Linked DNA regions of Homo sapiens. The protein of the gene in region 4 purifies or fractionates together with the protein of the main gene of each other region. This does not show direct contact. Each region holds a gene or a part of one and is shown on either strand. Other genes may lie near its edges.

Region 1 (7,784 bases), on a different chromosome or scaffold from region 4:
GTGAAAGTACAGGAAGTGACTCACCAAGAAGCCTTGAATGGAAAAGTGTAGCAGATGGTTGCTAAAAGAAATCTGACAAAGCCTGGGGAACTCTGTAGGGTGCAGAGACTTTGACAATGTGTATGAGAGACATTCTCTAGGTATCATTACTTTAGCTCATGTTTTGTTGCATTTTAGTCTTCTCAGCAGGAAGACTGTTTCCAAGAAAAATGTATTATTTATTGACCAGGCGCGGTGGCTCATGCCTGTAATCCCAGTACTTTGGGAGGCCGAGGCAGGCAGATCACGAGGTCAAGAGATCGAGACCATCCTGGCCAACATGGTGAAATCCTGTCTCTACTAAAAATACAAAAATTAGCTGGGCGTGGTGACATGCACCAGTAGTCCCAGCTACTCAAGAGGCTGAGGCAGGAGAATTGCTTGAACCTGGGAGGCAGAGCTTGCAGTGAGCCGAGATCATGCAACTGCACTCTAGTCTGGCAACAGAGCAAGACTCTTTGTCTCAAAAAAAATTTTTTTATTTATTTTACAAACACTTATGTGGTAGTTACCATATATGCCACATATTTATGAGATAGGTACTATTATTATTCCCATTTTACAGATGGGAAAACCAAAGCCCAGAGAGGTTAAATAACTTACACAAGGTCACACTGCCTTGTAAGTGGTAGAGGCAGGACTCAACCCGAGGCAGTCTGGCACCAAAATCCACATCCTCACCCATACTGCAATATTCCCTCGAGGATGTGATACATGAAATGTATCTCTAGTGTTCAAATAAGTAAGGCCAATGCCAGTGAAAAACAAGTCTTTTTTTTTTCTTTGAAACAGGGTCTCGCTCTGTCGCCCAGGCTGAATGCAGTGGTGTGATCAATCATGGCTCAATGCAGCCTCGACCTTCTGGGCTCAAGTGATCCTCCTTGAGTAGCTGGGACTACAGGTGTGAACCACCGTGCCCTGCTGAAAAAGGATTTTTTTTTTTTTTGAGCCAGAATCTTGCTCTGTCGCCCAGGCTGGAGTGCAAGTAGAACAATCTCGGCTCACTGCAACCTCCACCTCCCAGGTTCAAGCAATTCGCCTGCTCAGCCTCCCGAGTAGCTGGGACTACAGGTGCGCCACCATGCCCAGTTAATTTTTGTATTTTTAGTAGAGACCGGGTTTCACTGTGTTGCCCAGGCTGGTCTCAAACTCTTGAGCTCAGGCAATCCGTCTGCCTCGGCCTCCTAAAGTGCTGGGATTATAGGGATAAGCCACCGCATCCAGCCTTTTTTCTTTTTCTTTTTTTTTTTTTGAGATGGAGTTTCGCTCTGTCATCCAGGCTGGAGTGCAGTGGCGTGATCTCGGCTTACTGCAACCTCCGCCTCCCAGATTCAAGCAATTCTCCTGCCTCAGCCTCCTAAGTAGCTGGAATTACAGGAGTGCACCACCACGCCCAGCTAATTTTTGTATTTTCAGTGAGACAGGGTTTTGCCATGTCGGCCAGGCTGGTCTCAAACTCCTGAACTCAGGTGATCCCCCTGCCTCGGCCTCCCAAAATACTGGGATTACAGGCATGAACCGCCGTGCCTTGCTGAAAAACGATTCTTGATAAACAAAAATAAGAGTTGCCTCTATTTCTAGAAATGTGGAGCCCTCAAGAATTTTAATGACAGAATTGGCAGGTGATGGTGTCTGGTGCCTGTAATCCCAGCACTTTGGGAGGGCGAGGCGGGTGGATTGCTTGAGTCCAGGAGTTCGAGACCAGCCTGGGCAACATGGTGAAATCCTGTCACAACTGAAAATATAAGAATTAGCTACTTGTGATGGTATGCACCTGTAGTCCCAGCTACTAGGGAGGCTGAAGTAGGAGGATGGCTTGCACCCGGGAGGTCGAGGCTGCAGTGAGCTGTGATTGTGCCACTGCACTCCAGTCTGGGTGATAGAACAAGACCCTGTCTCAAAGAAAAAAAACAAGAATACCAGAATTATTATTTAATTCAGCACCTCTTGTGTGCCAGACACAGCGCTAAGTGCCCTGCATACTTTGTCATTGAACTATACCAACAATTTTCTGAGAAGGGTTCAGATATGATTCCCATTTCACAGATGAGGCTTATAGAGGGGTTAAGACATTTGCTCAAGGTTACACAGCAAAGCCTTGTAGACCTTTTTTTTTTTTTTGACGGAATCTCGCTCTATCGCCCAGGCTGGAGTGCAGTAGTGCAATCTTGGGTCACTGCAACCTCTGCCTCCCGTGTTCAAGCAATTCTCCTGCCTCAGCCTCCCAAGTAGCTGGGATTACAGGCACCTGCCACCACGCCCGGCTAGTTTTTGTGTTTTTAGTACAGACGGGGTTTCGCCATGTTGGCCAGGCTCTTCTCGAACTCCTGACTTCAGGTGATCCGCCCGCCTCAGCCTCCGAAAGTGCTGGGATTACAGGCGTGAGCCACTGTGCCCGGCCTCAGTAAACTTCTTAGTGAGTTCCTAATAGTTCCCTAAGGTGAGGAGAGAAGAAAGTTCCTGCTGCTCCTGCTGCTTGCGTCAGCCTCCCTTCTTCCTCCCCAGGGCTGCAAGTGGAATTCATCAACCCCATCTTCGAGTTCTCCAGGGCCATGAATGAGCTGCAACTCAATGATGCCGAGTTTGCCTTGCTCATTGCTATCAGCATCTTCTCTGCAGGTGTGGAGGAGGGGCAATGGGAAACAGCAAGAGACTTACACCAAGGAGGGCTGCAGGTCCCACAGGAATCGGTGGGGGGAGGGGGGTGGTGGCTTGGGAGGGTGGAGGCATTTGCTGTGTTATTTTAGGATGAGAGAGCTTGGCTGGAGCATGTCTCTATATTTTGGTTGCAATTTGGGGTATGGAACTGGACCCTGGCCAGACCTGCTCCTCAACTCTCTTGGTGACCTATAGACCGGCCCAACGTGCAGGACCAGCTCCAGGTAGAGAGGCTGCAGCACACATATGTGGAAGCCCTGCATGCCTACGTCTCCATCCACCATCCCCATGTGAGTCTCCCCATGGTGTTCCTTTTCCTCCTTCCCACACACAGGCCCATTCCCTGACATACCTACTTTCCCTTCAAGAATTTCTCTCTGACTGCATGCTGTGCAGACAATTCACCTCTCCCACAACTCCCCTACTCTTGCCCCGCTTCCCTGGGGACAGGCAAAAGCTGTGTTTGTCTCTCTCCTTTCCCCAGGACCGACTGATGTTCCCACGGATGCTAATGAAACTGGTGAGCCTCCGGACCCTGAGCAGCGTCCACTCAGAGCAAGTGTTTGCACTGCGTCTGCAGGACAAAAAGCTCCCACCGCTGCTCTCTGAGATCTGGGATGTGCACGAATGACTGTTCTGTCCCCATATTTTCTGTTTTCTTGGCCGGATGGCTGAGGCCTGGTGGCTGCCTCCTAGAAGTGGAACAGACTGAGAAGGGCAAACATTCCTGGGAGCTGGGCAAGGAGATCCTCCCGTGGCATTAAAAGAGAGTCAAAGGGTTGCGAGTTTTGTGGCTACTGAGCAGTGGAGCCCTCGCTAACACTGTGCTGTGTCTGAAGATCATGCTGACCCCACAAACGGATGGGCCTGGGGGCCACTTTGCACAGGGTTCTCCAGAGCCCTGCCCATCCTGCCTCCACCACTTCCTGTTTTTCCCACAGGGCCCCAAGAAAAATTCTCCACTGTCACTCTGTGGTATGGCCATAAATGCCTCAGCGCCGCCTCACTGATAGGTCTGGTACTGTTTGAACAGGAAGATCAAAATGAATACAAAATGAGAGAAACCAATTTCTGGATTGGGGGTGGGGACACGGTAATAGAGGAGGAAGCCTGCGATCTTTAGGATCCGCCTCCAGGCCCAGAGGAGGGAGAGTCACAAATGACAGCCTTGGCCGTGAGAGGGGGCCTCTTCTTACTAACCCCCACTGCGCCATATGGGTAAATGGAATGCTGAGGCTTAGGCGCCCCCTTCCCCTGCTGGGATCCGGGTAGGATCCGGTTGCCTTTCTGCGGTGGAGGAGGAAGTGTTGGATTTCAGCGCTAAGGCGTCGGCGGTGCACCTCACGTGCATGTGTAGCATGCCTTGGTTTTTCCTTTGGCATCTGAAAAAGGCACAACCTGAAAGACCTAGAACCCAGTGTCGGTCCCCAGGCCCTTTGGGACAGGAAGAGAAGAGCCGTGTGGCCGCGGGGAGGATGTCCTGAGGCGGGGCTGTCCTCGCGGACTGACTGGACTCCATCTCCCAGCGGGCGCCGCGGCGCGGCCACGCCCCCCCACTCCCCGCGCGCGCCCGGTGGAGGTAACCGCGGCCGCGCGCCCCCCTCTGCCCCCGCTGCCCAGGATTGGTAGGCTCCACCGCTCGGCAGCCGGCTTCCCTGCTCGGACGCCGAGCACCGCCAAAGCGCGTGAGTGGGGGGTGGGGACTGGGGGATGGGGAGCCCGTCAGGAAGTCTCAGGGGCCGATTATCTTGGGAAGTGACTTTCAGAGGAATCCCCATGTCGTCGAAACGGGCGCTATGACCCCGTCGGGTGAGAGTCTCTCTGAGCAACCCAAACAGAAGGTACTGCTGTGGGTCCCCCACTTGGCACGCGACGGCGCTGGGTCGGCCTGGCGCGCCCTCCCGCGCCCACGGGCGCTAGGCTAGGTCTGTGCGCAGCCGCTGTCTCCCGAGGTCGGCCCCGCCCCGCGGCGCTCGGCTCGGTGCAGCCCCGGCCCCCCGGGCTGAATGGTACGGCCCCGGCCCCGGCCTCCCCCTCCGCACCCCGCGCGAGTGGTGCGTGCCCCCCAGTGCAGACGCGGAACTGGCGCCCGCTCGGAGCGGCGCCGCGCTGGGGAGCGACTGACGCCCCGCTGCCGGGGGACGTCGGGCTGGGCCTGGCCAGTCCCCCAGAGCTTGGGAGGTAGGAGAGTCTGGGCCGGTGGGGTCCTGGGCGAGCGTCTGGGGACTCCGAGCGGGAGACGGGCTCTGAGAGGACACCGTGGCTCTTGGAGGAAGGGGTCTCTCAGGAGGCCCTGGGGGAGTGTGAAGGGGCGTGGGGACGGGGGTCTGCCGAGGAGGGGCGGGGACGGGGATGGGGGCGCCCCGGGCAGAGGAGGGGGCTCAGGCTACTGGGCTTGGTTCCTGCCGAGCGGGCGGCTCGGGTTCAGGTTCGGGGCGGGGGCGGGGGCGGGGGAGAACTGTCCAGCAGGTGAGGGGGCGGGCAGAGCTGGCCAGCCCTGGGGCCGAACCCGCACAGCGCTTGGCGGGTGTGCTTGTGCGTGTGCGTGCTTGCGCCTTATTTTTGGCTAGAATTTGGAGAAACACGTTTGGTTCTCAAGAAATTTTTTTTTTAACTTGATATTTCAAAATTGACTTGCTGGAGAGAGAACACCATTTCATCTTTCTGCAATCGCTCTCCTCCCCATCCTCGTGTATCTACCTTCTTCCACCTTTCCCTGCCCTCCCCTCTACCCCAACCCTGCCAGCTGCCAGCCTCCTTGCTCCAGTTCTCCCATACGCTGGACCAGTCTGTGCTGATGAGCTTGCAAGGTCACTGCCTGGGGAGGTAGAGGAGGGGAGGAGAGCCTCCTGTTGTGTTCACGTCAGCAGAGATGTCATATCGCTCTCTGGTTCCTGTGGTTTTACTGTGAGATCCTGTCCAAAATGAGGGACGAATCCAAAGGGTTGGTTAGCATGGCTATTTCTGCTGAAAAGGCATAGATAACTTAAAAGTTTGTGAATCCTAAATCTACCTCTGGGTGGAGCTGATGGTGATGTCGGACTTCAGCAGATAGATATGCATTTTGAGCTGGATGCTTTTGGAATACAGGAAGATAGGAACCAGAGGCTCTACGTTAGTAAACATGGTTGAGGCAAGAGGCAGAGTCGGAGCCTCGTTGGTTGTGAAGACAAGAGTGTGAGTTGTGGGTGATGTTAGAGGATTTAGTCTTTAGAGGAGTTAAAGGTGTTAGTCTTTTTGGGGAGGGGAGAGAGGAGAGAATGAGAAGGAAAATCTTAGTTATCTTTGCAATCTGAATAACTGAAGGCAGTGGCTGCTGATCAGATGTGAACTCTGGCTAAAAATTTATCCTACCACCCGTAGCTAGAATAATAACAAGATCTCAGGGTCCTTGTGGCTCTGGAAGGAAATGATTGTGAGTGACTTGAGTTTCGTCAGATAGTTGTCAGTGGAGAGGGACTGAGATCCCACCAAGGCTAGAGAGGCCTGATGCGTACTCAGTAGGAGGTGCTTCAGGCCTGATCTTTGAGATTTTGGTTGGAGAGGGCTCCGGGTTTTCAATGTAAACATAGATTGCAAGGTGTAGTCTAGAGCTCTGGTTCTATAAATTCTGTTTTACTTTAAGATACTTTGGCTCTCACTCTAGTCATTTCTACATAATTCTTTTTTTTTTTTCGAATCCCATGACAGGTTAACTACATAATTCTTTATTAAAACAAATTATGCTTTTTACTCATATCCCATTTCATTTCTCTATTTCTCTCCCCCTTGGATTCTGCTCAGGAGGAGCTGAGTGCGGCTCTGTTATAGTGCCCCACCTCCTGCAGTTTGCTCATGACTCTATTGCAGTTGGGAGAACCAAGGGACTATTTGGGTTCGTTAAGCAGTGGTGATACCTAGAAATGAATATATGGCGTGCTCAGAAACCTGGTGGTGTTCTAGAGATATCACTATCAAAAGCCAGAATTAGGACGAAGTACAAACTACAGACAGATGAGGGAGAAGACAACCTAATTCTTAGCAGGTACTGTCAGTGGGAGAAGTGTCTCTAGGTTCGAGGAGAGTGAATTGTTATGGGCCTTGGCTGACTCTGGAGTAGCAGCTGCTAGCACTGTGCGGTCACCAAGCAGGGGAGGGGCTGTGGCTCTGCTATAAATAGTGCTGGGAGCCAGAGTCGCTATAGAGATAAAACTGAATCCTATTACCTGCAGGTCCTCTACTGGGAGCAAGGGAAAGGAGAAAGCAGTATTTTGAGGATTTGAGAGGTATTGCAAATAGGTCTTGTTTATTGTTAGGTAGGGGAGAAAAAACTTCTACTCATTACCTAAACCAAATAGGGCCTTAAGCATCCAGGGAGTGTGTATGTCTGTATATATGGGAGTGCCCGCAGCAGCAGGTGAGGGAGTAGAGGGTGTGTGTGTGTATACGATAATGGGTTTCTCTCCGTGTGCATTGAACAAGGTCTTAGGCCGCATGTAGAGCACAGAGGTAGAATCCTGGAACACTAGAAATATGAGAAAAGAACTTCTACTCATAGAAGAAGTAGCCCTACCAGAAATAGCTGTGCAGCGGGGTGAAACGTTTTATTTAGAGAAGTGTATAGACACTTAACACGAAATAAATTATAATTAAGACCATGAAAGCTTTTCCTAATTTTAGGACATAGTTTAGAAATTTCTCTGAGCACGTCTCCCTGTCCTTGCAGAAATCCTGGTATTTCTGCCTCTAATTCATAGCCTCTGTAATGTATAGTAGGACAAGGACTCATCTGTGGGTATTGTATTACTGATTCTGAGCCTGAGATCAAAATAGAGGAGAGATTATGATTCAGCACCAAGGGCAGAGCTAGTAGCAGTGGCCTCTGGGCTCCTTTCTTGCCTGAAGGAGGGAGAAAAGTGGTGCAGATTAGGCAATTGGGGCATGGACATTTTCATTTGAGATCACATGAGGTAGAATAGCCAGCTGTTATTGTCTGAGCATGGTTAACTAGACAGTCTATGTGGTAGTTTTACATCAAGCTGAATGTAGATTGTTGAAACAGAATAATTAAGTTTCCATCTAGACCTAGAAGTGCAGGTTAGTGCTAG
Region 2 (7,211 bases), on a different chromosome or scaffold from region 4:
GTGATGGGCACCACATGATGTCTGTCACTGACTTCCAAGGAGCAGCTATCAGTCAGGGACTTGTCCCCATTATGGGCATAGGAAACTCGGCCCTGTTTTATGTCCTCCAAGTGGAAGAGACCCCCTACATGCAGGATCTGTCCAGACACTCTCATGTGGCCATGTTTGGGTGCCTGAGTGAGAGTGAAAGAGATATGGGCAACATCAGTGTCTACATCATTCACGTGCAACTCTGTCTCACTCAGGATGTGGTGACCCTTCTCCTGAATAGTGAAGCCGGTGTTGAGGATCTCAGGTGGCTGGTTGTCCACGGGATGCAAGTAAAGGGTAAAGGTACCTGGAGCCACATTCCCAGCTCGGTCTTCCACCTGGAACTGGAACTGGGCCACTCGAGTAGCCACGCCCAGTTCTTGACCCGGGGGTCTGTAAGCAATTTTATGATGGTTGATCTGGGCTTGGGTAAAATGGGTCACCACGACTGAGGGGTTGTCAGTCAAGACCAAGGTACCCAGTGGGGCTGGCAGGTGATTTTCGTCTGTGTCTGTGGGGGGCTGAGTCACTGTGTAACGTAGTTCTCGGTCATCTGTGTCCAGGTCAGTGTAGCGCAGCCACTTCTTCCTCAGTGGTGTGAGCTGGGATTCCTGTACCACCATACGAAGGGGACAGCCACTGCCCAGCTCCGGAGGGAGGCGATCCACAGGATGGATACGAATCACAAACCGCTGTAGCCCGGACTGATTAGGAGGGTCATGGTTATCCTGGACTCTAAATGTGAACTGGTCTGTGACTGGCCCAGGACTATGGGGCCCAGAGTGTCTATAGAACAGCCTGCCCTCTGTTATGTCCTGCTGCTGCCACTCTGTCACTGTTCGCTCATAAAATGCCCCCTCCTTCCTCCAAAGGCCTCTGAGAAGTTCCTGCTTCTCATGGGGAGGGTGAGTTTGGCGGAGAAGCAGATGCCCCGTAGTTAAGAAGGGTGACTCCAGCACAAAAAGCAGCAGAGAATCATCTGAATCCATGTCAGTTGCACTCAGGGAAAGGGGCAGGATGGGCACTGTTTCACCCTCTGCCAGTGTCAGCCCCGTGTTGGCATTGAGAACAGGTGGCTGGTCATCCACAGGCACTAAGGTGATGGGGAACAGAAACTGTACCTGGTGCCTGCCTCCTCCATCCACCATGCGAAGCACCAGGTTGTCGCTCAGCGAGCCGTCTCTGTCATCATGCTGGTAGACCACCTGGCCGGCTGCCAGCTCAGCCACTGTAAAGCTCTTGGGAGCAGAGCTGCCACTGGAAGCACCCAGAATGACAAGGTGACCATGCCGGAGCCCAGCCACCACCTCTAGCCGCACTGCTTCTAGGTCATCCTCATCGCTGATGACCAAGTTTTGCGGACCACTGCCTGCAGGGCCTGTGAGGGGCCGAGACTGACCCTCATAGAGAATAAGACCGGTATTCCGGGTGACCACCGGAGCCATTGTGTTCATGGGCTTCACCACTACCATGAAGGCAAAAGGGTCTGAAGCTGCTCCTTCTAGATCCACTACCTCCAATTCCAGTTCAAAGAGGCGCTCCTGGTCAGAGTCTTCAGAAGGGGGCTGGTAGGCAATCTTCAGGAGCCGCAGATCCCTCTGAGTGAAGGAGGAAAGGGGCAGGCTGCGATCATCGGTGCTCACCAAGTAGCCCTGGCCAGGCTGGAATGGAGAAGTAAGGTTGAAGATCAACAGGTCAGAGGGAGACTCAGCATCCTCGGCTGCCAGCATGTCTGGGGTCAGGGCCGTCAGTACAAACTGGTCCACCTCCATCATCATCATGGCCACGAAACTGGGCTTGGGTGCAGTGTTCTCGGCCCCTCCTCGGATCCTCACCAGAACCTGGAAGTGCTCGCGTTTCAAAGCAGGGCTGCCCACAGGAGCCCCTCGTGAACGCAGCTCCACCACCATGGGTATCCAGTCCCTGTTTGGTGAGCGACTGGCGGCTGTGTGGCGATAGCGCACGCCTAGTTCCTGGAAAGCTTTGCAGTCCATCAGGAGAGTCTCCGGGGCGCCTCCCTCTCTGGCTCCTCCAGGGACCTGCGGGTAGTGGAGGAGTTCTCCATAGCGAGGCAGCGCGCCCAAGCCGGACAGGATGCCCACGCGGCACTCCTCTGTCTCGGGCTGGAAGGCGAACTCCAGGCTCCGCGCGTCCAGGGCATTGCTGGTCCCCAGCAGCTCTTCCACGACCAGAGGCAAGTTCCGAGTCACAACCTCCAGCTGGGTGAAGACCACCTCCACCTCCAGTACCAGTGGTAGCACTACTGCCCCTCCGGGCGCGTCATAGCGCAGCTGCAGCCGGACGCGGTCCCGAGACGGGCTGCGCGCGCCCAGGTGAGAGTAGCGCACCTCGCCAGGGCCAAAGTCGCACGGGAAGCGCTTGGGACTCAGGCGGCCCGGTCGCTGGGCCAGTGCGTCGTTGTCTAGTACCGAAACCGCGCAGCGGTCCCCGGGCTGCACCTGCAACACCAGGTCATGCAGGGGATCCAGCCAGACTTCACGGCCGAAAGGCACCCGGAGTCCGCGGTTCGCCAGCACTATGGCCTCCTCAGCAGGGACCCCTGCAGCCCCCGCGAGACCAGGGGACAGCAACGCCCTGCCGAAGGCAGCGGGCTGTGCCGGGACGCGGCTTACCAGTGACAGGAGAAGCAGCAGCAGCAGCAGCAGCCGGGGCGGCGGTGGCGGTCCTGGTTGAAAGCTGGTGGAGTTGCCTGTCCGGCGCGAGGATAACCCGGGAGTCCCGGCTGAGTGCATGGTCCCGGTGTTCGGGCTTGGACAGGTCAGCCTGAGAGCATGCGAAGTCGGTCCCCGGGCAGACAACAAGAGACACCGCCGGGAAGTGCCAGGAACTCCGCGCGTTGCCCGCGGGGTCCTCCTGTAGCCGGGGCTGGGCCAGAAGGATGGCAAAGTTGCGCGGCGCCGTCCGGGCTGGAGCCGCAGCCGAGGAGCCGAAGCCTTCCCAGGCCGTCCAGCTCCGCCGCTAGCGCCTCAATCGCGCGGAGAATTGAATCCCTCCACTTCTACTTTCCAGGTCCCCGGACCCTGGGCTTTGAGGGAAATCCCTCCGCTCGCACCCCTTACTCCAGTCCTCCCAGGTGGCCAATCGTTGGTCGGGGGAGGAGGTGCGGAGCTGAGGGTTGGGTAGTAATTTCTGCCAATCAGCTCTTAGAGGCCAAGGCGGGGAAACTGCGGGGAGGGGAGGAGATAGAGGCGCAACAGGTTGTCCTGGAAGTGAGGGAAGAAGTGGCCAGGAGTTGCCCACCCCTGCTTGCGCTACTCTCTGGGCTGCTATTAATAGATCTGGTACTCCTGCAGAGGAGCCGGAACACACTGCTGTGCTGGGTTCACTTCATCTGCCGGCGACCGAGGGTTACCCATTTTAGCCACCCCCACCCCTCCGCCCTAGTCAATGAAATCCCGCGCAGGGCATGGCCATTTCCCAAGGAAACTTGCAAACCCAGGGGAAAGTTAGACGCAATGCTTTTTGAGTTTGAAGCGAAACCCAGAGCGTTTGAGAAGAAATTCTGGGGCATATTTGCAAAAGGACAGCTGGAATTAAAAGCCATAGCTAGAGCAGGTTGCACTCCAGCCCAGCCCCCTTCGGCGCGCCCAGACGCTGCCTTCTCCTCGTGAATTACAATGGGCACAGTCCTCCGATTGGTGAGTTTTTAACAAGCCCCTCCTTTGCAACCGAGGTTCACAGAGTAAAAGGGAAAAAGGGCATTTGGAATGCGTGAGAAATGCAGTCTGATCAGAATTGCTAGTCTTGCACCAAAGAATAAATTCTAGGGAATGTGGCCCCAGGCGCTCCCAAATCCGACTCTGTTAGGGTAGCTGTCATTAGAGACGTTCCTGTTCTCTTCGCAGTAATTAGACCAAGCACAAACTAAATCTACTTGTCAGCATCACATTTCTTTGCATGCCACGAAAATTGATAAATATCCGGAGGGCACACTAAAATAGTTTAGCTCTCATTTCAGCCAACAGGTTTTGAAGTCAGAGCTTGAGCTCTTCCTGCCCCCTTGTGTTTGTTTGGTTTTAGTAGTGTGTAGATTCCCTTTCTAAAAGGTTTTTTTATCAACTCTCCTCCCCCCCTCAAAAAAGATCCCTTGTAATTTAAACTTAATCATTTTCGGATTGGCTCCTAAGCAATCATAGTCAGAATGTTTTATTTAGGATAATATTTTTTTTCTCCAGTAATGCAAATCTGATTGCTAACAGGAGCATAGAATTGGAGTAATAGTCATAATTAGCCATAATTGCCCTTTTCCTGCTCCAAGGGATTTTGAATTTGGAAAAGAGGGAAATATAAGAAATTGTTAATGTCTTTTTACATTTCAGTCTAAATTGAAGCTAGAAGGTGCCTATGGGAGTAATTTCAGTAAGAAGTGCCTATCCTTTTAAGCCTTTGTGTTTTCAGCTTGAGCTCCTCCAGACCAGGATTTTGATCCTTGCTTGACACAGTTACAGCTATTTTCCAGGCTGCAGCACAAACTCTGTACATAAGTATGGCTGGGAGATGCCAGATTCCTTTCCATGAAACCTACTGAGTGGTGTCCGTTTCCAGGAATCATAGACAGGAAGTTCTAAAATCTTTCAAAAAGAAGCAAGAGATCAATTTAAAGGAGTCACTCATCCAAGCAAGTGTGCAAGCACGCAAACAAGTAACATTTAGTTAATTAAATATTAATTAAGATTATTCTGTGTGCTGTGCATTGTTTGAGGAGCTTTTAACTACAACTTAGAAACTGATGGATACATTTCACAATTTATTACAAAATGGGCATCCAGGAGCATAGAAGGGATGTGGCCCTTACTTTAAATACATTAGAAAATCCCCCATCTAACTCTTTACCAATTTCCTATTTGCTTTGTCATTATTATTTTATAATTTATATGATTATTTATTATCGCATACAGAATTCAAAATGCGGAACATGGGGGGAAATTCTGCTATTTCCTGTTCCAAATTAAAACAAATAAGATGCCAAGTAAACTAGAAAACCAATTTCAGAATATGGCTCTTTTTATAGTAAATTTCAAATTCTGGTTGTGTGTTTGTATTGAAAAATGTCATCTGGAAGCAAAGTGGCCTTATCCAGGCATTGTGACCCTGGGTAAATTCTGAGCAGAACCAGACTAACAGCTTGACCCTTGATGCTTCTTAGTGGCTCCAGGGTTTTCCTTTCCTCCTTTTAAAGTCCAACTCTGTTTGACTTGCAAGCAATGATAAGATCAGCATTTGAAGTATGGTAGTATGCCTCAAGGGCAGAGTTCAATATTTTGTTTCATGGTAAGAAAAATACAGGACCACATTTATTTTTACATAGCCTAAGGAAATCAATAAACTATAATCTTTTTGACTTTTTAATTTTGTCTGCCTTGATCGAAGTGATAGAATGATTTTTAGAGATTATTATTATTTTTTGGTAAATGTCTTAGTTATTTGTCTTGTAAATCAAATAGAAGGTAACTCAAACTATCATTTGGCTAAATATATTTTACATTGATGATCATTGACAAAACAATGAGATGTCAAATTTTTATTTGAGAGCAAATATTATTGATGAAGATCATCTCTGTTTAGGCTCCTAGTTCAGTGTTAAAAGATATGAATGCTAAAATAGCAAGAAAATTATTATTTTACAGTCAGCGTTCTCAATATCACTCAATTTCATGAAGAATAAGTTAGCAAATGTGATTTTTTTTTTTTTTTTTTTTTTACAAAATTCGAGCTTAACACTTCACTTCTTACTTCCTTAAGCCTTATAACGCTTCCTATACATACCATGGGCAAAATATTCCTTAAAATACATTCTTAAATTTGTTTGCTACTTTAAAGTCATACCAAAGTGTTGTCTCATATCAACTTAGAGTTAAAATTATTGATTGCTAAAACTCACAGACTAAGATTAAGCACTAGAGAACTTGTTTTCTAAAATAAAGGAAGCAATGTAATTAATTTATGATTCAGGCAAGGTATTTAGGTGGAAATACCTAATACCTAATACCTAGTACCTAGTAGGTCTACCTAACTATTACCTAACTACTACCTATTAGTAGGAAATACCTAATACCTAGTAGGTCTAGGACTGGAGGTCAGACTGGAACTAAAAATACATCTAGTTAAATTTTGAGAATTATAGTTTTCATTATATAGTTTATTTCATTTTCCTTATGCTTCTCCACCGGGTCATAAGATTCCAATAGAGAAGATTGCCTTATAGACACTTTTAAAATACTTACAGATGAATTATTGAAGTTTCTTGTGAAACATCTTTATTCATTCTCAACAAATGCTTATTCTTCAGTGGCATCAAAACCATGGTTTGACCATAAACACAAAACTTCATCGATTTCAGAGCAGCACTGAGGGGTGAGGACAAACAGCTACGGACTCATTAACCAAGAGGTGGGTTCCAGTAGCGGTTTTGACATCCACTAAATTATGACTTACAGCAATCCTCTTTATGTTTTGCAACTATAGTCTTCTCAACTGTAAAACAAGAGAGTCAGTCTTTGTGGACAAATTCCCTTTTGGTTTTAATAAGCTTGTGGCATAAGACCAAATTTATGGACGACCTGCTATTTTGCTTCCTCATGTCCCTTGGCCATTGGCTATAGGTCTCATTCTTGCCAGAAACACTACTAATCAAAAATGTATCACTGCTACTAGGTCAGAAAATGTAGAACTCAAATTCATGCCCCTTGCGAACGGCTCAATTGTTTCTGCCTAAAATATACAGAACAACATTTGTATTAATTGACGTGGACAGCTTAAATACAACATCTCTAAGTAACTATTTTTAAATAAAAAATAAAATTGAAATAAAAGTCTAGAAATGCAAAACTTAATTAAACTCATCATAAGGATAGGCGAATTTTCAAGATGGATTTATTATTGAGTAACATATGGCTTCACAAGCGCCCAGACTTTCCAGACAAAGCTATGTTCAGATGGGAGTCTATGTGGGGAAGAAGAAAGAGCACTGGACTAGAAGCCAGAAAACCTGTTTTGAAACTGGCCTTTCCATTTGCTTGCTGTAAAATATACAGAACAACATTTGTATTAATTGACGTGGACAGCTTAAATACAACATCTCTAAGTAACTATTTTTAAATAAAAAATAAAATTGAAATAAAAGTCTAGAAATGCAAAACTTAATTAAACTCATCATAAGG
Region 3 (7,793 bases), about 67 Mb from region 4:
TGCCGCGCGCCGCGACCGCCGTGTTATTTGCTCAGTTGCTCCCCCGCGCGCACCTTCTGCCCCATCTTGCTCCTTCCCAGAATTGGTTCTCGTCGCCGGCGGCGGCGGCTGAACCAGGCCCCCTTCCCGGCCGGCGCACACCGGGTGAGTCAGAGGTATGTGGCTTGGCCTCGCCCTGGCCACCCGCTGCCGGCTCCCAGGGTGCCAGTGCTTTGCTCCGCCTGAAAGCCTGAGCAGCTCACGGCTTGAGATCGCATTTTGGGGAGCTGGAGGTCCCTGGCAGGTCCCAGCTTCGAATCCCACCCTGAGATCCCACCCCGGGTCCGAGGTTGCCCCGAACTCCGCGCCTCTGGGCTTCTCTGGAAGTGACGCAGCACTGCTGGGGATTGGGATGGGAGGGGGTTCTGCAGAGAGCGCGGCAGGCAGGTGGCAGAGCGGGAGTGGGTCCAAGCGGGTGTCGCGCACACACGTACACACACTCCAAGCAGCGCTCGGGGACAGATGTGCGAACATCTGGGGTAGGAGATGGCCCCTGAGTCTTCACGACCCCTCCCGCTCCGCACAGCACACGGAACCTGAAGTTGCATGTGTGTGCGCGCCAGTGTGAGTGCCAGTGTGTGCGCGCTCGCGCGCTGGGGCCTACTGGAGTCCGTGTCTGAATACATAATATACTGTGGGCATCCTCACGGCGCGCGCGCGTGTGCACACACACACAGCGAATCACACAAACATACATAATTTACGCAGCATCCAGGTCTGTGAGTGGTAATTTAATTCCGCTTCAAGCTGGGAATTTAGAAATAAGGCAAGGGGGAACGGCGGAGGCCCAGAAAATCTCCCCAAGTGGGACCCCCACCCATCCCTTTGGCAGGATTTGCAGCTGCCCTGAAGACCACTTATGGCAAAGAAAGAGCTGCAAACGTGCGGATCTGGGTGGCAAAGGCATTCCTGAATTTTCTTCCCCCCTCAAATAAATGCCCAAGCTTAAAGTGGTGTGTGTGCTGGTGGGGGGCGTGAGGAGAAGGAAGGGTGACAGTACCAGATGCAAGGCTAGGATCCACTAGCTGATGTTCTGGGGATGCCAAGGAGGCTGCAGAGTTAGCTCTACCACTGCCGCCATCGCCTTGCAAGTGCCTTGGGTGAGGGCACTTCAGGAAGGCTTTTTCGCCTTTCTTTCACCCATTTCCTCCATAGATGGTTTCTCCATCTCCAATCACCTGTAGCAGCTGCTAAGAGTTTTGTTGTTAGATTCCAGACACTGTTCTCAGAGGGGTAGGGAGGCTCACTCTAGAGAGTGGTCCGAGAAGGAAGCACAAACCCCACTGCATTCCCCATGGATTCCCCTTTCCAGAGCATACCCCTTGCCGCTCCCCACAAATGCGGTCCCCAGACTGTTCTGGGCCTCGAAATGCTTATCTCCACAGCAGCCTGTCCACACACCCTTTTTGGCAGTGGTTGAGAACAAATTCCACTCAAAAGTTTCTAACCACTTCACAAGAGTGAGAGACCTTCGAGGGCCTGCAATTTGTTTTAGCTAATAATAATTTCTAAAAGAACGTACGATTTACTTTCCCAGACAACACATGGATGAAGAGAGAAGAGACCAACCGTCTTGGTTGCCAGCAGCACCCAACCCCAAGCCCCTATCTCAGCCACAAGCCAACTTGCTCCACCAGCCTGAGCCTTATGATTCTGAAGCATAACCAGTCATTCTCCAAAGAATCTACAGCATCTGAAAACCAAAACTAAACTCTTGTCTTTCCCAAGCCCTTCAGTTAACATTGCTCAATGTAGCTAAGTGGAGGGAATGCAAATGATTTATATTTCACTGGCTAGTTGGAGAAACTCAAGGGAGATGTGTTCTGCTTCAAGACAGGGAAAAAAAATTCCCAAAAACTGTAATGCAAAGGCTTTGTAGTATTTTTAAACCTTTGATTCAGTCCATATGTGACATATGAACACCGCCAAATTCTGTTTCAAAACACACTCACACACACACACACACACACACACACACACTCCTAGCAGGAGAGGAAAGTTGGGTTTTAGCAGCCGTGGTGGTGTAGGAAGGGCCGGCTGGGATCTCTCTTTAAATTATTGAGTACTGAGGGAGCCTTCTTCTGTGCCGTTCTGCGTGGCCTTCCTGCTTTAGCGGTCACTTTTAAAGGGGAAACCATGTTGCAATAAATAGAAAAACTTTCAGTGGCTTACCTGGTTGGCCTCTCACTTGGTGTCTTGAAAAGTAGAGGGCTAAGAAAACCCAGGTGAGAGGAAACATATCCATTTTGGAGAAGGTGGCTCTTTCCAGAGCTGGGTTCGTAGGTTTCTTGTTTAAATCTTTGTGTTTTTCTCTCTTTTATTTTCCTCCTTACAACGTCTTATGCAGAGGTTTCTAATGGTCAGCGTTTCCCTCCTGAGTCCTGGTGGCTTGTCTTCACCTCTATTCTTGCTGGAATTTCCACCTCACCAGGAGGAGAGTAGCTCCTGAAATCAGCAAAGAGGGAACAAGCCGGGAAGAGAACACGGTTTTCCTCTTAAAAACAAAACGCATATATGTTCTCTCCAGTTCCTCAAAGTGTCATTTCCTTTATCCTACAAATATCACGAGTATTTCCCGAAAGCCAAGCGTAACAATAATGATAATAATAATAATTAAAACCAAGACTTGCCTTGGGCATCACACGGCCCCCAGGCAGCTGTGTGATCTCAGAGGCGTAAACTGACACACATCCCGCGGCACCCTTGACGGACACACGGGCGGAGGCAGCCGCCGCCGGACAGCCCGAGTGGAAGGCGGCCGCCCTGCTCTTGTCCTCGCCGGGTTCCCCCGGCGGGAGCCTCCCCCAACGGCTACACCCGCTTGGCCAGCCTCTCGAGGGGAGTCTGAGGAAGGAAGCTGCTGCTGCTGTTGCTGCTGCTGGTGCGGCGGCGGTGGCGGCTGGGATCGCCTGGGAGTGAGCGAGCCCCTCTCCGAGTTCGCTGGCGCCCGCCCTCACCTCCACCTCGCCGAGTGTCTGTGCGGCTGAGGATGTGCTGGGGGCCGGCTGCAGGCTGGTGCCTCGCTCGCGATCTCTGCCTCCCCTCCGGCTCCCCACTGCCTTTTCAGGCCGAGCAGCATGTGGATGTCAGAGCCGCGGCAGAGCTATCCGATTACGCGCCGGCTCAGGGCCCGCCCCTTCTGTGTTCCTGATTAAAGAGGCAGCCGCGGAGACGCGCGGCGCAGAGCAGAGTGCCGCGGCACCCAGCTCGGGCGGGGCGGCGACGGCTTCTCTCGGGCCGCCGCAGGATCGAAGTTAAGGCGGCGCCCATCCCACCACCCCTCGCCCGCCCCGCATCTCCCGATCGCCCCCGCGCACCTCCGCGCCGGGCCGCCGGTGCGTAACGCCCTGGGGAAGAAGCGCCCCCGGGCACCCCCAGGGCGCGCCGCCTTGGCCGTGTCGCCCCCACCCAAGGGAGACCCCGGGGGGACGGGGGGAAAAGCCTTGTTCCCCCTAAATTCCACGACTCCGATGCCACACACGCAGAACCCAACACAATGCCACGCGCGATGGCGTTACAAGAGGAGTTGGGTGGCGTACGGTGTTTGGGGTAGCGAGCCGGTCGGCAGCTCAGCCATGCGTTCGAACAGGCAGCGGTGCGTGGCGGCGACACACACCGTCAGCCCGGTCTGAATAAAACCCCAAACACTCGCTGCGTTTACTACTCAGATCCTTTGTTATGTCCCAAACATGCTCTGCTCCTCTCTGGGTTAGGATTTCGTTACCCCTGCGCCTTTAACTGTAACTACCCTAAAAAGAGGAAAGACTTTCTTCAGCAAATAATTTCTTCAGGTAATTAAATTGGATTCCATCAAGTTCCCCCGAAAAAGTATAGGTGCTTGAAGGCGTCTCATCCAAATGCTACTGTAACTACGTCTATTCACATTTTCCCCCATGGAAACGTGGTCACAAAGCCTAGAGAAAGAAAACATCATTATGCCAACTATTTTTAAATGGAGGCGTGAAAACTGTTTAGAGGGAACTGCAAGCTAACAGTTGGGGAAACACTTGTATCTTTGTTTCTGAGGATGGCTTTGTGGATTCCAAACTGTCTTGCTTCACCAGACACCTATTACTACATTATCATAAAGACTGCAACAGAAACAGCCTAAATTACACCCTGCACATGTACACCTTTTCTGCCACAAAAGAGGTATATGAAAAATAAGAAAATTCAGAAAAATATTTACAGATTAAGATTTTTTTTAAATTAAGAAAGTAAAATTTTCTGTAGATTAAGAAAAATACAGTTTCGGTGACGAGAAACACACACCTGACTACCCATTTTCTTCTTGGCTTGTACTTGTGGATTCTTCTGGGTGGTTTCCCTCCTTATCTGGACTTGCCCATTAGCTTTATCACTTTTAGTGTTTGAAAAATCTGTAACTCCCACTTAACTGTTATTTACACTGAGATAACCAAAACAAAATTGAATCAGAAGTGATTTGCAAATAGTTGAGCCAAGCTGTGTTGGGGGGTGGCGCGGGATTTTAGAGTGGAAATCCACAGGCTGAGTATCACACTGTTAATCTCAGATGCCTGGTTGGGAAAGGCACAGCACAGAGGCCTCTGAGTTCTTCCAGGGAGCATGTCTCTTGGCTAGCCTAAATGCTACCTTTCATTCCCTCTTTGCCTCCCTCCTTCCTCTTCCTCCCTCCTTTCCTTCCTTCTTCCTTCCTTTCTAGGCTTGAGAGCACATCCACATTATTAAAAACTCCAGATTTACATTTCTCCTCTTTAAAGCTCAATTGTAAAGAATGACTCCAAGCCTTAAATATTTAACAAAGTAAAAGAGCAGTTTGGATTATTAACCTTAAGCAGAGATCCCGGTTTATGTCATTGCCAAGATGCTAATCTAAGGACAAAGAACGCTATCTGTAGTGACAGTCCCTGAATAGAGAGGGCCATTTAATATCACCTCTCCCCACCACTCACCAGGCATGCCAAACCATTTTTGCCAGTGCCCAATGTGGGAGACTCCTGTTTGTGAGAATAATGTAGCCAGGGTTTAGGTGAAGGGCACTGTGAAAGGGGGAAAGAAGAGAGAAAAGGTAAACCTAAGCCCACTGGAGAACCATAAGAATGACAACCCTGGACTTCTGGTCTTGGGGTCTCAGGGATGAAGGTCCCCATCAGGCTGCTTCCAGAGTAGAGAAAAGTAAGAATCAGTTTTGTTCCTGGCCTGGTTGCCTACACTGTAACTTTTCATTTTTCAGCGGTGTCCTACAGGGGACGCTCACTTACTTCCTGGGAGTCCTCTGTACCAGGGCTGCAAGACTTCCCACTCCCCTTGAGTGAAGGCCTCATTTCCTGCAGTTGGACAGAGAGTGAGTCTCAGGTTTCCATCCCTGGGGACTCAAGCGGCCAGACCATTTTTCAATCCTCTAGGGGGCAGCACTCAATAAATAATGGTAACACCACCCAGGGTCACACTTCTGGTGGTGCTTTTAATTCCAAGGAGTTCAAAGTGCTTTATCAGACCAGGGAAGATTCAGAGTGAGGCCGATCTCTCCCCAGCCTACTCTGAACAAGACCCCACCGGCCCAGAGAGGGCTTAGAATTGTTTTAACCTAAGACTTCCAAGGACTCTTGGGAACTAAACACAAATCTCACATGTGCCACATGGAAAACAAATCTTTAGGGAAATTCTTCACACTGGGACTGGCTCAGACCTGCCAGTCTTGTTTCCCTCTAGACTGGGATCTCAGGGTTTGACTGCAGTTGGTCTGGTTTCCACCAGAGGTATAGTGGTAAAGAGCTAGGTAGGCACCGTGCTTTTCAGTATTTTGTGAGTCCACATCCCTGGCCCATAGGGAAGCCTGCCTACCTAAAGGCCAGTGTCAAAAATCGGGTTTGTGATCAAAAACACTGAGCTGACTAGATAACAGCTAATTAGCGAAGCTGAGATTCCTGGCCACATCACTGACTCACCTAGGATGTTTCATGTCATTATCCTTAGTTGTAAAATAATACTAGATAATCCACTCCACATTCCATTCCTTTGACGGGAAGGGATGTGGGGGAACATGAAACAGGTTGGTAAATGATGCTAAGAGAAAGCTGTTACCAAGCCACACCCCTGTGGAAAGTTAAGTGTTCCCAGCTAGACAGTCCCAAACCTTAGGGTATATCAGCATCACCTGGAGGAAGTGTTAAAAATTCTGATTCCTGGGAACCATTTTCCTGCAGGTGAAATTCCTTGGGTCTGGAGTGGTCTTTGGGAATCTGTATTTTTAACACACATCTTAGGTGATTCTGATGCAAAGCCTCCACAGACCAGTAGTTGGGAACTTCTGATCTGATGTGTTCTATTTACACACAGCCTTCCATAAATGCTCTTCCGTTGAAGGAAACCTGGACAAGCATTCCTTCACATTTCCTCTCTGGGTACTTTTCAATATGGGGCAGATGTTTCAGGTTTCTTGGAAAAACCACCAAGAACAAGTTCTCGAAAATGCTGCAGTGGTGGAATTCCCAGATTTACCTGTGACCTTTAGCAGCAACTGCAGAGAGCCAATTTGAAAACACCAAAAGCCTCGCCTCATGCAGGCAGGAGCTTTGCAGGGACATGTTCAAAGTAGCGGCTGATGGGTTTATGAGCTGGAGCCAGACCTTTCATCACCAGCCCACTCAACCATTGGTGGTTACTAGAGGTTCGTTTCAGGTATGCTTTTCCATCTGTGTTCATCCCACTGTACTTACGAAATGTTCATGGATGCATGACTATGCCAGAGGTATGCGAGCAAGACAGAGATTTAGGTCTTGCCTCTCGGGAACACAGGATCTAAAAGCTCCAGAAGTTTCATGCTTCCACAATAGATATCACGTGTCACATGGTGCTTCCCCTTATCGGAGCCCTAACATCAATAAGCTCTCACCCTGAAAAGGAAAGATCTAAGGCATAATTGCATCTTAATCTGTAATTTAACACACTGCCCTAGTTAAGGTTTAGCTACATCTGTCTCAGAAGCAAAGCTTCAGTTAAAATGGAATAGGTCCTAATTTATTATTCTCTCTTTTGTTTGATGTCAAAGTCCAGGTTTCTGGTCACTAAGGGTTTTTTTTTTTTTCTTACTCGCCTTTTAAACAATCAACTTTTTTTTTTTCCAGCACACTTGAATATTGCCCAGTAGTTTCTATTTGACATTTCTATTCTAAATTGATATTTCTAGTATATTCTATTTGGTGGGTTTCTGGAATCCTTACAGATTTCCATAAAGTATTGAAATCTCCTTCACTCCATACTGGGTGTATATCTCATTTCTTCCTCAGACACAAACACTGGATCTGGTAGGAGGGGCCCTTATGAAACAAAATTTAAAAAGCAGCAGCAAAATGTGCAAAATTCATTCAGACCTCCCTGGAATCCTTGGAAAAAGAACCTAAAGAAGCCCTATTGCTTCTTCCAGTCTGCCTGGCTTTAGCATGAGTCTGATCTTCCTATGCTACATTAATTTTTCTACCTTTGAGGCAATAAGCGTATCAAAAAGACCCAGTCAACCCTCTCCCTTAAAACAGCACTCTCCATTAAATCTTCTGCAAGGACGGTGGTCTCTGTGCTGTTCACATGGCTACTGCGCACTGGAAATGTGGCTAGTGTGAGTGAGTCACTGAACTGTAGGTTGTATTTAATTTTATTCATTTAAATGTAAATTGCCGCATGTGCTTACCAGCTACCATGTTGGACAACTCAGCCTCAGAATCAAAAGACCAGAGCTGAATAATTCCCATAGAAACCCATAGAAATTCACACCC
Region 4 (7,099 bases):
ATAATAAACTTCATACTTAGTAAAGTTTATGTTAAAGTTGGAAACATGAGAACATGCTTAATTTCAGAATTATTCAATAATATTTTGAAGATTCTATACAGTTCTCTAGGAGAGTAAATTTTAATATGAGACATAATGTTCAATAAAAAGAGTCAAATATAAGATTATTTGCAGATGATATGATTGTCTAGACATAAAATCCAGGGGAATCAAATAAAAAATATTACAACTAATAACTGAGTTCAGAAATAGAACAGATACAAACATAAACATACAAAAATAAATAGTTTTCCTTACATTCCAGCAAAAATGAATTTTAAAATGTCAGCCATAAAAAAGATATCCATAACAACCTAATAATGTACCAGATATTCAGGAATAATAAAGAACAATTGTGCGTGAGCAATATTAAAAAGAAACTATAAAATTTAAAGGCTGTAAAAAACTGAAACACAGGAAATTACTTAAAAAGGCAATTCACAAAATAAGAAATACAAATGGTTATTAAATGTGAAAACATGCTTTATATACCTGATAAGTAATACAGTATACAATACATGTTAAAAACAATGAAGTACTTTCCTTTAATAGATTGTCAAAAATTTTTTTTTAAATACCAGTATTCAGGTAGTGTGATACAGGCATGCACATACAATGTAATACCTTATATTGGTACAATCATTTCAGAAAACATTTATAATTATCAAAATTCAATATATACATTCTCAATTGAACCAACATTTTCAATTCTAGGAATTTGTGTTACAGGTATACTTACAACTATATTAAAGAATTCAAAACAATTTAAATATTAATTAGAAAGATTAAATATATTATGGCATATCAATGCCATGAAATACAGTGAATCTTTAAAAATATAAGTTGCTCTATCAAAGTAGCCAAAATATGCTATTGCATTAAAAAAGCTTGTTACAGAACATGGTACTGTGCATGATATAATTATTATAAAAGCATACATATCCATAATATCTGGAAAGACATACGTTAAACTATTAATAATGCCCTGAGTATAAGGTATGAGGTGGCAGAAAGCAGGCAGGGGTGAGGATGGCTACTTAAAGAAATTCTGAGTAGTACTAAAAAAAAAAAAAATTAAACAGAAATCTTAGATGGAGTTCCCCAGAAGGACAGGCTGAAGCAAGTATTTGAGGGCTATTGATTTAAAACAGAAGCACTTCCGGGGAAGCCTTGCTAAGGGAGCAGGGCAGCTGGTGAAAGAATGGGAAAAAAGTCATGGAAGTGCGTGATCTCAGGCAAAGTCTTGCAGAGGGTAGCTTCAGCCTGCTCCTGCAGGGAAGACCGAGATTATCTGTTTCACCTCAGTTATATCTGGGAGCTGTCCAGAGTCGGGGCAAGGCAGCTGGGCTTTCATACTCTGACATCTGTCAGTCACTAGTCAAGAGCTTTCCAGAGGAAGTGAATGGCACCTGTGGCTCTGAGTGCATTCTGGCAAAGTGCCTCCCCAAAAGAAATCTGGGTGGAGAACCAATAACATCCACTACAATATTACTTTTATAATAAAATACATATTTTCATTAAAAGAAAGAAAAAGAGAGCAAAAGCCATGTGCTACTAGTAAAGTAAAATTATATATTAATGCTCTCAAATTCTACACAAGTCTGGGCACCTACTAGACAGGTTCCCTCACCCACCTGCTTGTCCTCATATTCCTACCTGTCCACTAGAAAACCAGGGTTTAGCAGCCCGTGAACCCACACTTTCTCTCTCCTTTTTATCTTTTCCATCTGGAGTGGTATAGGTGAGATCCTGAAAAGTTAGAGGAACTCTCAAAACCTCTGCTGATCCTAACTGGAGCCACATTACTTGGCTACTAACTTAACATGAAAATGGCATTAAAGCTGAGACCCTTGGCAACTGGCCTCCATGAGGTTAAATTTTATTATTTATTTATTTAGAGACAGAGTTGCACTCTTATTGCCCAAGCTGGAGTGCAATGGCACGATCTTGGCTCAACACAACCTCTGCCTCTTGGATTCAAGCAATTCTCCTGCCTCAGCCTCCCAGGTAGCTGGGATTACAGGCATGCGCCACCACGCCTGGCTAATTTTGTATTTTTTAGTAGAGACGGGGTTTCTCCATGTTGGTCAAGCTGGTCTCGAACTCCCGACCTCAGGTGATCTCCCCACCTCGACCTCTCAAAGTGCTGGGACTACAGGGGTGAGCCACCGCGCCCGGCCCATGAGGTTAAATTCTAAATAGAACTCCAGATTAAAGAAATGCCCCAAGAATTCATTTGTTCTATTCAACTTATTTGACTTTATGGCAAAGCTAAGATGAATGAATTAAGGTTTCTAGCTCAGTGGTCACTGAGCAGAGTGGGATGTTTCCTAGAAATGTCCCTCAAGTCCATCACTCTGGGTGTCAGTGATGAGTACCTAGAAAGACAGCACTCATCATCAAAGTGGATGATTCGAATTTACAATCTGTGCAGTCTACAGTCTGTCTCTGAAACCTGTGGTGTGCTTTTGTTGCTTCACCTGTAAAATGGATGCAATAACTATCATTCTACTTACTTTTCAGAGCTGATGCACAGATTAACCACGAAAGAATTTTGCAAACCATGTAGTGCTTTACATCCTGTCACTTGTCTTAGCACAAAGGCTCCAAACATTAAAAATGGGATGGTGGTGACTTCAAGATCCAAATCCATGAATGTTGGAAGGCACTTGTTCAGCACAGATGTGTGTGGCCTTGCACATGTTGAGTGTGAGTTAACAGTAAAACATCCAAGTAAAACAGAACAGTAAGTTATGGAGACACCGGCTTGGAGCCTGAGCAACAGGGTAGGAACTGAGATACAAGCTGGAGAGTCAGCAACACAGGAGCAACAGGTAAATTCGAGACTACGGAAAACACGCTTTTGAAAACTTCATCTTTTTTTCCATTTCCATAGCCATATTCCTCAAGCCAATCCCAATCGTCTCCTGTTTGAACTATCCAAGTGCAAAACTTCATTAATACATATTCCTGTTATCATTACTACAAAATGTTAAATGATGCTTTATGGTCCCTAGTCGTTTATTGTATGCATTATCCATTGAAAAGATCATACAGATTTTTATACTAATCAACCACTTTCAGTAGCTGTCTACACACACAAATGAGGAATGGAATTTGGGAATAGAAATCACATGTGTTTTTAACAGCCATACTACATAAGTGTTCTTTCCCTTTGAATAATATACATTATTTCTTAAATTACTGTTTTGGGCGAATAAATATACCTGCTATATAACTTAAATTGATAAGATTTAAAAATTATCATTATATATGATAAAGCTTGAAAATCATAATCTTGCATATTCTTGCATGAAAAGACTTACACAATTTATGTAAATTTTGTTTTTAATGACCTTAGAATCACTTTATGTGGCAAAAAAGCAGCAATATCTCAAAGTCAAGTTTCATTTGTAGAGACATTTACGTGCTTACAGTTGGATTGAATCCCAGGAATAGTTAGTCTTTCTGTTTCACTTGGATTTTCTCCTAAGGTTAGGATCATTGGCAATTTTCTCCATCTTTGGTAGGTCTCACATGCCAGTTTTTTTGTTTGTTTTATTTTTAAAATTTTGTAACATTTACATGTGAACTCCTGAAACCATTGCAGTTAGTTAAAACTATTTCTGATTTAAATAGACTGTATTCTATTCAGGCACACAAAAGTCACTTGCTAGTTTTCTGGATGAAGAACAGTATTAATCTGTAATGTTGTTTATCTTAATAATTAGAATTTAACTGAGAGTCAATTTTCCGTTTATTTAAATTGATGCAATGACTAGATGTTAGTTTACAATTTAAAATGGTATGGGGGAAGAAAATCCCTGAATGCACCATTTTAATTTAACTTTTTATTGATTTTGCTGATTATATGTTAAATAAGTGCTCATCAATTCTCTGTCTGGTTTTACTAAATTTTCCTTTTCCGTAAGCACAGATCTAGTAATCCATCTTGTAGTGTTTTAAATCTACTTCTAAGTATATACATCACTTGTGATGTGGTTAACAGCATAAAATACATGTGAAATTTATATTTAAAACAATTACATTTTTATGTAACATATATATACAGTAACTAAAGATGTAAATCATATGAAGAAAAATTCAGAACCCCTGTTACAACATATTAAAAAAGGAGAGATGTTAAAAACAAATTTTTATCTACTTTGTCATTATTGACTTCATTTTATAGATGAAAGTTCTCAGGCTGTTAAACGAACTGCCCAAGACACATACACACTCACAGGTGCACATGTGCACACATACACACACACTCACACCCTTGGACCAACTCTATTTTGTTGACTGCTATGTTCTCACTGCTTGCTGTAGTCTCAGTGTAAAGTCTGGATCAAAACAGATAATGAACAAATATTTGTTGAATGTTTGACTGATTCAGAAATAGACTCCAAGTCTTTTGACATGAAATTCATTGTTCTTCCCAAAACATGAATGGAAACATTTAAAATATCCTTCTCTATCTTCTAGTCTTACTGGGAGAATAGAATGTGATAATTGTGTGAAAGAAACTTAAAATTATGTAAGTGCATGGAAATCTAAGTCAGCGTTATTATCATTATAGTTTAAGTTTATAAAATGTCTCATTTCTCTTACCATTTAAGAAAGGAAAAATTAACTAGAATGGCAATTTAGTATACGTGCTACTGAAGTGAGCACAAGAATGGCAATTTTAGATACAACTATTTGATCTTTGTGAATGATCTGACTAGGAAAAAGAAAAATATTTCCTACAGCATTTGGGCTTAAATAATGGAAATTTCATTTTTAATGGTAATTCTATAAGGAAAGATAATTCCTTATTATATACCAATCTTACAGCATAATGAACCAAACACTTGTTTGAGAGTTTTAATCTAGATTTTCATAAGTTAAAAAATAACATAAAATAGAAGTTTTCAGTCAATCACATCTTAAAATTCTTTCTTTAATATGAAAATCTATACCACAACTTATACTGTAAATTGCTTTAGATTCCTTTTTTATTTAGCAGGATTTTGAAATAAAGAATAGAGTTGTCATCAATACCATTAATCAAATCACAGCTAATAAAAAATGCATTAGTAAATAAAGACTTATAAAAGGGCACCTGATTTTGGCATAATTAAAAATACTTATGACGAAATAGTGTTAGAAAATCTTACGGCAGTACAATATATATGTTAACTGGGAAAAGGTTATCTAAAATCATTTAAACATATCCCAACTTAAATTATAACCATTGTGGAAGTCAAAACCATAGGATTGTGCCTGCTAATTTAGTTACAAAGTCAATAATATAGAAATTAGTTTGTTAAATCACCATCCTGCATACTATAAGGATACCTAGACAGTAACCTCATATGGGGAGCACTCAAAATCATTTGGACCAATTTTTTAAAGCCGTTTTGAAATAATTTACTTCCAAATCAAGATATTAAATGCCAGCTTCTAACCAGCAATAATGCTTATGGCTAAGATAGAAATGAGATTCTTTACAGAAACGCTGACACAGCCTTAACTGTAAGCACTTGAGTGTGCAGCTATAATTCTTTTTTCAAATCTTTCCCAGTAAAGCTTCAGGTAAAAGAGTCCACAGAATATGTAAACGGTAAGAGACAGTCTAGAGCTTTTACAAAATCACAAACCTGTGACACATTTATATTCATCTTTGATTGCTACCACTAAACGACTAAATCATTCAAGGTGTATTGATTAGCTCTTTAATAGATAAAAGGTGGGCGGTGTCTTATATAAACCAACATTTCTTAATACATTTGATTGGCAAGAACTACACATTTTAAGCTGACAATGTAAACCCCTAAAATATTTTTCCAAAAAGCTTTCTGCCTTATTTAGCATTACAATTACTAATCAAAAACCATAAAAAAGAAAAAATTACAAAAAAATACAGAACAAAGATTAAGAAAGCTTTTCTTTTCCATTCGGAAACTAAACAATAAAATAATTTCCCAAGCAGTCATTTTTCTGTATGGAAGGCATTCACAACTGGACCAGATAACATAATACCAGAATAAACCAAGGGAATACAACTTGTACTGGGAGGTGGGTGACTGGAACCAAGGATTTAATTGTCTAATCTTAATTTTCATTTTTTAAAGTGTGTAAAATAATGATGCTTATAATGAGGAGTTCATTTTAATGCACGGCCAACTCTAAGTCATAACAATGATATAGTGGTGTTTTTTTTTTTTTTTCCTTCACATTGTCATATAGCCAACAGAGGACTATTCATCCGGCACTGGAAAATACTATTTTGATGTTTATTGATCAAGGCTGTATGAGGAAAGTTGTCATTTTTGAATGGAAGATAGTAAAGAGTTATCAATTCTTGTAAGTACAGAAGAAGAAATAAATAGAATCATCAGACTAAACAAATATTAAAATTATTAGTTTTAATGTAAGTACCCTTAATAAATTATGTGGTACTAAAAAGATGAACTTAAAATTTTACCATCTTTCATCACAAGGATCTGATTTTATAGGATTCTAAAAATTTGCCAACTTACATTGCTTTTAACTAATATTTTATTTTGTAAACTCAGCATTGTATCACAGTAAAACAAGTTAAAATGTGTAAGAAACTGATTTTTTAAATCAGCCCTAAATTTTATCTTAAACGTTAGCTAATCATTCATTTAAATTAAAATTTATTCTTTTTTTAATCTTCTTTTTACTTAAAGGCAAAAAATCACACTTATTACCAGTTACAAATCATCATGCAAATCTGTAAACAGTTGACATCTGGTGAAGTCTTTACCTTGTATCATGATGAAGCAACACTCATTTTGATATAATATTCATTTCAAATGCTAATTTTTTTCTTCATTAGTGGCAGAAAAGATATAACATGCTCTTAATATTCTTTATAAGAGTATGTTGCTGAATAAGAATTTTTAAAAAAGGAATATGTTCAAGATGGATATTTAAATCTTGCAAATAGTAATCCCATTAATTAGCTATAGCAACCTGTCTGTTAAAAGCACTATACACAGGCCAGGAAAATGGGCAAGGACAGGTAAGAGACATACATTCTTCCTAG

What was found.
Region 1: the proteins of NXPH2 (region 4) and MADD purify together in Homo sapiens (affinity purification with mass spectrometry; 3 studies listed by BioGRID and IntAct, with this or other methods). This does not show direct contact.
Region 2: the proteins of NXPH2 (region 4) and FREM2 purify together in Homo sapiens (affinity purification with mass spectrometry; 3 studies listed by BioGRID and IntAct, with this or other methods). This does not show direct contact.
Region 3: the proteins of NXPH2 (region 4) and NRP2 purify together in Homo sapiens (affinity purification with mass spectrometry; 3 studies listed by BioGRID and IntAct, with this or other methods). This does not show direct contact.

What each region holds. Positions count from the first base shown.
Region 1 is NC_000011.10:47,265,369-47,273,152, forward strand, and holds the start of MADD (MAP kinase-activating death domain protein), read left to right. Parts: upstream 1-4,764; 5' UTR 4,765-4,878; intron 4,879-5,288; exon of another isoform or gene 5,289-5,612; intron 5,613-5,710; exon of another isoform or gene 5,711-5,874; intron 5,875-6,593; exon of another isoform or gene 6,594-6,742; intron 6,743-7,784. Other genes in the region: NR1H3 (oxysterols receptor LXR-alpha), read left to right, coding at 2,545-2,658, 2,893-2,987, 3,182-3,328. UniProt on the Homo sapiens protein: Guanyl-nucleotide exchange factor that regulates small GTPases of the Rab family. Converts GDP-bound inactive form of RAB27A and RAB27B to the GTP-bound active forms.
Region 2 is NC_000013.11:38,682,917-38,690,127, reverse strand, and holds the start of FREM2 (FRAS1-related extracellular matrix protein 2 precursor), read right to left. Parts: upstream 3,052-7,211; 5' UTR 2,784-3,051; coding exon 1-2,783. UniProt on the Homo sapiens protein: Extracellular matrix protein required for maintenance of the integrity of the skin epithelium and for maintenance of renal epithelia. Required for epidermal adhesion. Involved in the development of eyelids and the anterior segment of the eyeballs.
Region 3 is NC_000002.12:205,677,782-205,685,574, reverse strand, and holds the start of NRP2 (neuropilin-2 isoform 2 precursor), read right to left. Parts: upstream 3,075-7,793; 5' UTR 2,285-3,074; coding exon 2,212-2,284; intron 1-2,211.
Region 4 is NC_000002.12:138,770,378-138,777,476, forward strand, and holds part of NXPH2 (neurexophilin-2 precursor), read right to left. Parts: intron 1-7,099. UniProt on the Homo sapiens protein: May be signaling molecules that resemble neuropeptides and that act by binding to alpha-neurexins and possibly other receptors.